Regions from separate parts of the Homo sapiens genome. Here region 1 is linked to region 2. Evidence: fine-mapped expression QTL. A gene starts in region 2. The other region holds a variant in brackets. All regions are shown on one strand. Distances are from middle to middle.

What was found.
Region 1: its variant is fine-mapped to the expression of ACOXL-AS1 in atrial appendage (GTEx, PIP above 0.99).

Annotation. Positions count from the first base shown.
Region 1 is chr2:111,158,165-111,163,164 of GRCh38, forward strand. All of the region lies in intron 3 of BCL2L11 (BCL2 like 11), which reads left to right. Among named protein-coding and RNA genes, the nearest start is that of BCL2L11, 40 kb to the left of the region's middle. The variant T/C (reference allele first, on the strand shown) is at 2,819.
Region 2 is chr2:111,112,600-111,118,124 of GRCh38, forward strand. It overlaps ACOXL-AS1 (ACOXL antisense RNA 1), which reads right to left and starts at 2,989. Exons shown (of 4, transcript NR_122074.1): 1 at 2,921-2,989; 2 at 1,540-1,699. ACOXL (acyl-CoA oxidase like) reads left to right here. Exons shown (of 18, transcript NM_001142807.4): 18 at 5,017-5,525. The coding sequence ends at 5,217.

The sequences.
Region 1 (5,000 bases), 45 kb after region 2:
AGCTCCACATCATGCTCAACTGTGTGCTGGGCCTTTTTCTCTCTGACTTCTGTGTCACTTAGTTGCCAGTTAAAATGCTGTTTAGACTGCTGGGTTATGAACGAGTCGTGGAGTGGTAGTTCTAACAGAATCAGGGGGGTGACTCCTAGTTCCATGTCCCACCCTGCCACCTCAGTGTCCCTAAAGATGCCGTGACAGCCCCTGGGTATTCTCAGGCTCCTGGATGTCCATCCCAGGCCCTCTCTTCTGCAGCCTGTGGGGATCAGACACCAACCAGAGAGACTGCTTCCTCAGTTGCCTGAGCCTGGAGCAGAGATTCCCTCTGTCCTTCCTGGTCTCACAGTCCAAAATTCAGCCTCCTATTATATATAATGTATAATAATTTATAGTATATATATAAACACTTAAATATATATAAAAAATAAGTTTCAGGACATCCTATACATTTACTGTTGAAATTCTGTAAGAAACAAGTTTTTGAGTAAGTTAAATTCCTCTGCATCTCAGAGTTCTATAGGTATACCTTGTTTTTGAATGCCTCTTAGAATTAGGAATTGAGCTTGCTTTGATATGACAATGAAATTGTCGTTTTTCCCTCGTTGCTCTGACTGCCAGGAAACTCTTAACTAAACTGTGGCTCTCTTACAGCACATCTCACCCCTGGTTCCCAGGATAACTCCTTGATGTCATGTCTGATCTCAACCTTTTTTTTTAAATTGTGTTACACACATTTGCGCTTTCTTAATTTAAGTCCCCTTTGAGCCATGCTATGTCTAGGTCTGTGTTGTACTTACCGAGTCCTTGGGCCCAGTGGGTGTCAGCCCTGCCTTTGGAGCATGGATGAGTGGGCTGTATTCTGAGCTGCATTGTAGGAATCACTTAGTGATTCTCAATTCGCACTCCAGAACCTCTGTGGCCTCAGCTCAGCCTGAAACAAGGCCCCTTTCAGGTCTGAGGAGCAACGGGCCCTTCCCAGCAGAGGCACAGGCACAGGCACAGGGTGTGCGAGGAGGGAAGGTGCTGGCCTGAAAGCCCTCGTTTAACTTCTTTCCTGCTTCTGGCATTCCATCTTCATGTGGGCCAAGAGTACCCATCCTGTCCTGCCACTGTCTTCAGCTGCACTTTGAGTCACTTGCTTGACCTCTGTAGTCACTGGCTGCAAAACAGCATAGGGAATGCTACCCTGGCACTCAGGGTTGTTGTGGGGACTGAAAAGCATGGGCTAGGTTATTTCATTTAGTGGTGGCCATGGCAATTCTTCCATCCCCAAGCTTGGGCACACAAAGTCCAAAGGCCTGGAGTGCCCTAGGCAGCTTTTCAAAGGTTCGACTCCTCTCACTGTTGGAGAGTGAAGCTGAATCCAAAGCTGCATTCTATAGTTGTCTGCTGTTCAACCTGACCAGTTCCCTGGGGCCAGGGCCTCTATTGTTTTCCAAGCATCTGCTTCCCTGGACTGAGCAAGAGAGTGGTGTTCTGTGATTATTTTGGCATTAGAATGTCATTAAATTCCCTGACACTTAATTGGTCGTCCCAAGTGTAAATTGAAGATGCTTCTGCCCTGCACTTAATGTTCCTCGCTGCAGTGGCAGCTCCAGCCCCTGGCAAGGCAGCAGGAACCCCACGCTAGGGCATTCCTGTGGTACAGCTCCTCCCAGGTTGCCACCCAGATGAGCTTGTGCCATCTGGTGTCATGGGGACATGTGAAGAACTATTTAGGAATTCCCTGTTGAATGCTCGACACCGTCTCAAAGGGCATTGTTCATATCTTCAGAGAAAGACTGCTTAAGTCTATGCTGAGGAACTTGTAGACACATAATCCTATGCCTTTACACTTAGAGGGCACAGTCTGTGGGGGAGCAATCCTGCAACTTGGCATAATCTTTCCTTCTGGTTTATGATAAATACTTATCCACTACTGAGATTATCTTTACTGAACTGCTGGCCCCTTCTGCCTGTTGGCCTTGCTGCCTCTGCCCAGCTTCTCTCTCCACCTGCACTGCCCATTCTCCTCTTGTCCTTCCAAGAAATTCTCCTCTTCCTTTGGGGCTTGATGTGGGGATTCACCCTGGTGCCTTCCTGCCCTGGCTCCCCCACTTCCTCTCTGGCCAGTGGTTTTTTTCCCTCTCATTTTATTTGCCTCTGTATTGTCCTTACTTTATTATCTTGTTTACTGTTTTGTGCTGGCGACACAGCTATTACCATCAGACCTAGTGGGTACACAGACACGTGCCTTGAAGTCAGGCCCCCCACCTGATGCTGGTCAGCAACAGGGCCACTGGAGCCCCTTACCCTGAGAGGGGCAGGGGCTGTCAGGAACTGGTTCCTGGAGGGACACACAAGGTTGTGAATGTTGAAGGAGTCATCTTCTGGACACATGGGATGGCCACAAAAGGCAGTTACCTCCAGGTAACCCAGTCCTCATATAGCTCTTGATTTAGGCTATGGAGATTACAGTACCCAACTGGGTGGGGCCCTCCTCTTTGTGCACTTGTGATTGTGTGTATGTGTGTCTGCGTAGAGAAAGTGAGAGAGGAGAGAACTGTAGTATATGGTCACTTCAGTTGTAACTTACTAGCAAATTTGGTCTTTAAAAATAATCTCCTTCACCCAAATGAGTTGTTATACCTTTCTAAAGTATTTTTGCAATTTAGACTAAAACAGAGTTACCCAACTCTGTAAGAAGGATTGTTTTCACTTAAAGAGTGACAGACTGAGAGCATCAGTGAAAGTGTGTATTAGTCAGCTAGGGCTGCTGTGCAGAGTTCCAGAGACTGGGTGGCTCACACAACAGGAATTTATTTTTCTTAGTTCTGGAGGC[T/C]GGAAGTCTGTGATCATGGTGCAGACTTAGCCTCCAGACCTGTAGATGCTGTCATCCCCTGTGTCTTCACGTGGTCTCCCTCCGTGGGTTTCTGTGTCCTGATTGTCTCTTACCAGAACACCGTGGATTAGAGCCCACCCCACAGTGACCTCATTTTAACTTAATCACCTTATTGATGACCCTGTCTCCACTTACAGTCACAGCCTGAGGTCCGGGGGGTTAGGACTGCAACAGATGAATTGAGGGGACACAGTGTACAGTTCAGCCCATAAAGAGGAAGATACCCAGAAGTTTCAGGAGGGAGTGGAGCATCTTCCCTGATTGTATTTATTTTAATAGTTTTTTAAAAAACGCTTGTAATCAGGAAAGACAGTCTGTCTTTTTTATATTACCCAGTTTGGGAGTGGCAGAACTTAAATGCACTTTTGATTCACAGATGCCTCTTCCACCTGATTAAGAACCACTGTAGCAGACGCAGACTTATTGGACACTAGGCGGGAGGCCAGCTCTGCAGACAGCAGGTCTCAGGAAGACGGTCAAGGCATGGCTGCTGATGATCCGCTTATGGGTGTGTTTATTGTCTTAGCCCATGTTAGATGCGAGGAACCACTCACACTGCAAATGACAGCTCCTGGCTCAGTCTTAGTGTCATACTTGCCTTTAACTGGCAACTCCCCTGCAATACAGGGATTGTCATCTTTAGTCCTGACTTTCCAATTCCATCTTGGATGTGCTACCCTGGCCAGAAGCCACTGGGTGTGCCCTTACTTTGACCTTTCACCAGTAAATTCCATCTTAGGGGGCTTTCTCTAATTGCTTCAGACTCCCTCCTGACCCTTTATACCACCCCAAAACCAAAGGCCCTGGTTTAGGAGCTGAATTGTAGCAGCCGTTCCTCAGTATCTAGATCGCAGGGAGATTTCACTGGAGCTGGCTGAAGCTGTTGGCGCTTTGAGCAGCGTTGAGCCATCAGTCCTAGTTCTGCGTCTTTGCCCCACTGCAGCTTTTGGCCACTTGCCCCAGTTTAGTGTCACCAGGCCCCGACTATAAGCCACAGTAATTTTTATGGCTGCAGGTATTAGAGGGCAGCCAGTCTACAGAGGTAGGGGCTGCCCATCCTCCAGCTGTCTTTTGCAATACGGGCATACACTTCGAGCCAACAGCAGCTCCAGCCGGCCGTGCCAGCTGTCAAATGCTTTCTGGGCTGGCACGGCTCTTTGAATCCGTGGTAATGGCTTCCTCTGTTGAATGTCGTCCAAAAGCAATTGCTTGTCAGCTTAAAAGCGTGTGCCATGTTGTCATGCCCGCCGTCTGAGAGGGCAGGCATCCCCGCACACTTGCAGACTGGGATGCTGTAGCATCTTCTCATGAGTCAGGGATTGGGTGTAACTTTTGCCAAAATTTCCTGCATTTTCCCCACCCTCTCCAACATGTCTTTGAATACCCCATATCCTTTACATTTGAGATGAAAGTGGAACTCTAAAAACCTTGGAAAGATTCTCTTGTGAGGTGACTTCTACTTAAGCTTGGTCACAGCCTCCTGCTGTCCTCAAAGAGTGGGCAGGAGATTTCTTCCCTTGGACGCTGCCAGTGCTGGAATATGAAACTTACCAAGTGTCAGCAGTTGGGGTCTGTCCTTCACGTTGACCCAGCCCCCTCATTGGTGTCCTGATGATTGTGGACACCCAGTCAGCCCCATTTTCTGGCCACACCAAGCATGGCAATGACACCAGGTTGGCACAAAACAACTCTGCCTGGATTGATTACTTAGCCCATCATAGCGTACACTTTCTTCATTTTAGTAAGTTGTGGTTTTATTTTGAATAAGTCTCTTTCAACCTATTAATATTAGTCTACACTAAAATTAACCTTCCCCTAAATTATTCTCACACAGAGGCAGCAAAGTAATTTTGAAAGTTAAATCAAAACAAAGCAATCTTGTGTGTAAAACAGATAAAAATCACAGACTGTGGTTACAGAGTGCCTCTACAGGAATCGCTTACATAAAGCTGATTTCCTCCAATCTTGTTATGGAAGGAAAAGGGGAAATGCCCTGGCCTTATCACAATCCCATTCTGTCAAACAAGCGCGGCAGAGCTTGTGTAAACAGTGGAGCTGCAGCTGCGGCTGGTGTCTGTGGGGGCCATTCGGGGTCTGAGGGGACAGTTGTCTCAGCCTGATG
Region 2 (5,525 bases):
CTCTGTGCATTCAGCGAGTTTGGAAGTCTGCAAAAAGTGAGAATAGGTGCAGGTTAACTACTTGATTGTGCCCATTTTCACCAGTCACGATTTGCCAGTCCATGTGCTGCTCTTTTGAAGGCACTTGAATTGTGTTTGACTTAAGGTGGTGATCCAAAGCAGCAGGGAGGGGCCTGTTGACCAGTGTGGAAGGGCACTCCCAATTTACTGAAGGAGAATCTGCAGAACAGAGTTGAAGCCTTGTCCTTCTGCAGGTAAAGGTCCTTCTAGGTCATCAAGCTGGACTTTTCACATGGTAGCTGGCTCTGAAGCCGATATCCTTGGCACCTTCCTCCGGTGGCAACATCATAGAGTACTCCTGGGCACCATTACTGCCCTGGTCCTCTCAGAGAATCTGAGCCAGTGTGGCTGGGCAGATCCATGTTCTCCACACTAGGCACACACAGAATACAGATTCTGACTTAGGAAGAACGTCAAGGGTCACACGTCTGCCACAGTGGTGGAGGCATTTGTCAGTGCAGCACCACATATCCTCCAGCAACTGGAAGCAGTGAGGCACTGGGGGAAAAGATGAAGGCAAAAGGGTAGACAAGGCTTTAGAAAAAAAAAGCCCTGGATTAAAACTCTAGTTGCATCAGTTACAAGTTATGTGACTTAAATTCTTTAAGCCTTGGTTTTCTCATCTGTAAAATGGGTTGATACCTGATAGAGTTGTTATGAGTACTGAATAAGACAGTGAACCTAAAGCCCTCCTCTGTAATCTGGCACACAGTAGTTGTCCAGGAAATGTCAGCATGGGGCAGAACACCGAAGACCTTGGTTACATATGTAAAGTGCCATATGTTGCCACATAGCATTGTTATAAAGATGCTGGAGATAGAGCAGACTAAGTCAAAGACAGCTAAGTAGCTCCCTTCTGTACTTCATGCCTTTACCTGCCTGGCCCTCCGGGATGGAATGTGGAAAGCATAGATACTGCACAGCAGAGATGGATCCTTGGCAAAGGCTGGAGTAACAAGCTATGAATTGTTGATTGGGGACTAGGGTTGCACGAGACAAGCATGGAATAAAGGTGGCCAGAGGCACCTGCCAGAATGCCAGTTATGTGTCACAGCAGAAGCAAAGGTGATAAATGACAGCCACAAGTAGCACAGAACCTCATTTTACCAACCACTTTAATCTTATTCCCTCATCACATCTTTTAGATTAAAAGATGTTTGTTCATTAATTAAGGTTCCCCTTCCTGTAAAGTTTCTAGCTCAAAATCTAGTTAACCTAAAATGAAGTCAACTGAAAAATAATGGACAGGAAATTACATTAATGGCTCACCAATATCTAACAATCCCTTAGAAAGTAAGAGTTGGCTGCATAGAGATTCTTTTTGGAAAGGAGGTGGAATTGATTCCTTATAGCAAGTAAGTTTATTTGTTGTTTTGCTTAGTCAGGTTAAAAATTTCTATTTCTGTGCATTAACCGGTGATAATGACTGATACTTATTCTGTGGGCAGGCAGCCTGGACAGTTCTTTGGCTAGTCTTACCTGGGATCACTCCTGTGGCTGCAGTCATCTGAGTTCAACAGGACTAGGATGTCCAAGATGGCCTCTCTCTCATATCTGGCAGTGGGTGCTGGCTGTTGGCCAAGGCACCTTGGTCCATCTCTACGTGGCCTTTTGTCCTCCAGCAGGCTAGACTGGGCTTCTGCACAGCAGGTATTCTCACGGTTATAGGAGAGTGATAATGGGGGATTCAAAGCTTCTTAAGGCCTAAACTCTGGAAATCACACAGTGACATGTTCCCCATATTCTACTGGCAAAGCAAGTCATAACTCAGCCCAGATTAAAGGGATGGAGAAAAAGACTCTACCAAGGTAGCCAGACGAAAGGGGCTAATGAAGGGACATTTCAAGTTTGGGTAAGGGATTTTTCACAAAAAACAGCATGTGGTCATCTTATGCTGAGAACAGGGGTGAGACATATGGGAAGAGGCAGGAAAACCTTCTGCATGGAGTCCTAGGAATAGCTGGGGTGTCCCTCCAAGTGTACTGGGCACTTCCCACCCTGAACATCTATTATAGGACTAACACCATGCCATGCTGGGAAAATATGGTTTGTTCAGAGGACTGCAAAGCTTAGTCACTGCCCATCCTTGGCCATCCTACTCTCCCAACTGAAATAAGGAAACTGTAGGGAGAGTCAAAAAGAGCAGAAAAATAAATTGAGTACTGCAACTAGATGGAGGTGGGAAGCCAAACTGATGTTACAATTTTTCCCTCACTCCCAAATATACATATTAATATAGTCAAACACAGTGTCATCCCTTGAGGGCTGAGTGCTTCTGCTTTCTTTAAAGCAGATATTCTCAAATTCCACTCACTGGCTATTTCCAGTGGACTGTACATTCTTATTGCTTGTAGAGCAATAGTGCCCATGTTTAGGTTTGACCTTAAAAAATGTTTTTGCAAGAACCTATAACTTGTTCATACTTTTTTATTTTTAAAGTATACCTATTCATTTGTCTTTTTCAAAAGCTGGTGAATTTTCTTTGTAAAGATATGGGTAAGCTTGAAGTACTTTGTCCAGCATAAATGGGTCATAAACTGGCAGGGCAGAGGACCCCTACACTATGTGCAATTTTTATGCTTATAGTATGGAAGCATGTTTGGTAACAAAACTAAACTTTAATAATACACTGCTTAGCCCCATATAAAAATACCCCCTGGTAATAAAAATACTGTAACTGTGTAATAATCAATGCTATATTATCTTCTCAAGTTTATTTTGTATTAAAGAGATCATATATTTTTAAAAATTTTTAAAACGCCTCAACAGCTTCACGATGTGAGACCTGTTCCTGTAGTGTGTACCATTAAACCTCTAAAGTCCAGAATTGTACCTAACACTGGGTAGGAATCCAGCATACCATTTGTGAGTGAAAGGATGGTAATTATTATTATCATCTTGACAGCCAGGAACAGAGGTGGGTGGGTACCTGGAATCAGAGTCAAACAATAACTAAGAGTCAAACAATAACTAACAGGAATGATGCCGGATCCGTCCATTGAGACAATAATCATTCTGAGGTTTCTGTTGCAGTCTAGGAAAAATGGAGAAGGCTAGAAGGAGTATTTTAAACTGCTCCAGAACTTTAGATTTAGAAAGAATCTTGGCAGTCAACTCCTCTTCACAGCCAGTTCATTTTTCTTCTCTAGGGTGCCATTGGAGGGCACACTCCCTGAACACTTATGAGTGAAGAAACCCTCCTTTTCACCAGCCATTGGGTTCCTTTTCAAGTTTATTTTTTTAAAATTTTCTTTATATTGAAATCTGCCTCATTTAATTCCTACCTCTGGCCCTACGTTCTGTTTTTGGCACCAGATAGATAAAACCCATACTCTATTTTACACTCATTCAAATCATTGTATTTCCCCCACCGGTGAATATATTACCAAAGTTGGTTGAGTTTCATAATGCAAACCCAAAGGGAAAATTATCTTGAATAATCATATGACAATATGTGGAAAGTTTAGGGGCTGTGTACGCCACCTCATGGTTTTGAACTGTGTGGTTAAAGACGTTGAGAGTTGACAGATTAGTCAGGGATTTTTCAAGAGTATTAATTACAAACTTTGAAATCTTGGTCAGTGAAAGTTCATTTTAGTGCATCTTGCAAATACGATCAAAGGTCTTTTCAGTACTGATTTGATGATGCTTAACCACAGTGTGTGAAGAATGAAGTTTTTCATTAGAAATTACTGGTGTAATAGAGCACATTTTCAGGGAAGATGTATTGTTGGACTATTACAATTCATGCTCTTCCCCCACCATATCCCTACCCTCTATATTCCCCATCCCCTATTTCCTCCACCTTCCTCCTTGGGACCTCACTGAAAACCTGAAATGCTCTGAAAACCTGAAATGGCGTTTTGGACTGCTGCAAGGGAAACTGTGATCTTAACAACATCAGTGCGGCTCAGACATGACCACCATGTGAGGGCAAAGGTGGGGCTGGTGTAAGTGATGTTGTTAAACCTGTAAAAATAAACCATGAAAACCTGGGGATTTACTGTGATTTGGGGAGTGAAACAAATTTACCACTGGCCGAAAACTTGAAAAATGGAGTACAATGTGTAGATCAGAAGAAAAGAAAGCCGTCCCTCTGCCCTTGTGTAGTTTTAGAAAAACAATCTTATTAGTTTGGTAGCTTTTTTTCCTGAAAATAAAAAAAAAAATACATTGGCACCTAAGCCATGGAAAATGAAATAAAAATACACCAGTGCAGCTTCCAAAACACTGACTTGCATCTCCCTCTCCTATCCGCCGGGAATGTCTTATCCCTGCCTTCCAGTGGCTGCCAGAACCAAGGGCATCCGCGGCGTTCCTTGGCATTGGCGTTAACAGCAGATGGATTTTCCGCAGCGGCCAGGCGGAAGATGCCTAGCATTGGTCCGCCGTCTCACTGTACTGAATTTCAAGAATCATGGCCTACTGCCAGCCAGGTCAGGACCGAAGGCGCTAGTCTGGGGAGACTGGAGCAGGTCTCTAGTGGTTCACCTGTTCGGAGGCTCTTCCTGTTCAGTTCCCTCTGCGCGCCAGAGGGTGGCACCCCAGGCACTCCAGAGGTGGAGAGGAGGGGACGACAGGGGAGGCAAAGAGAGAGGAGCGGAGGGAAGGACCAGGGAGGAAGGACCAAGGAGGGAGCTTTAATAAATTCTCAGACCTTGGTCTCGAGTTCCCGGCTAATTTGGGGGCAAAGCCGACCGACCCCACGTCCACGCCCACCCCCTTACGGGAAAAGCCGGGGTTTCCACTGGGCTAGGTGTCAGAGTTGGGAATGTCTAAAACAAAAAAGGCTTCCGAGGGTTATTCATGGCCAACAGTTTCCACAGGAGAATCCAAAGGGAAACTAGTTTCCGGGGCCGCTGTGTGTGCGGGTGCTTGGTGGGCTGAAAGCTGCTGTCACTAGATGGCTGTAAGTGTGCCAACATCTGACCTGTCCCATTGTGTTGTGTTTTGCAGTTGCTGGATTTGTGCGACTCGGTGAAGGATGATGCCCGGAGGGTGATCTCGACCTTTAACATTCCACACACCTACCTCCACGCACCAATCGCCGGAATCTCCAACCCGCGGGCCGCGTGGGCTTTCTACCCTGCACCGCTGCAGCCGCGGCCACGGGAAGAGGCGCGCTCCCGGCGGCCCAAGCTGGGAGCCAAGCTCTAACGGGTGTGGCGGGAAGTGTGGTGGCCCGCCAGCAGCTGCCACGACGCTCGCTCCACCGACGCCCAGAGCTGTGGCCGAGGCCGGGGGCTGGCACCCGCTGGGCCGCCACTCTCGGGGATTTTGGTGGCAAAGCGGAGGTCCCGCCGAGGCTGGCGAGGTGCGCGGCTGGCTGCTAGGAAAGAGATCCAGACGGTCGCCTGGTGCGCTGGATCCCTGTGCCCTTTCCCTGAAACCCAGCCTGGCCTGACTGCAACCTCTCCCAACTTCAGTGCCGGATCCCCTAGACAATCAGGGTGGGCTCCCCGCTG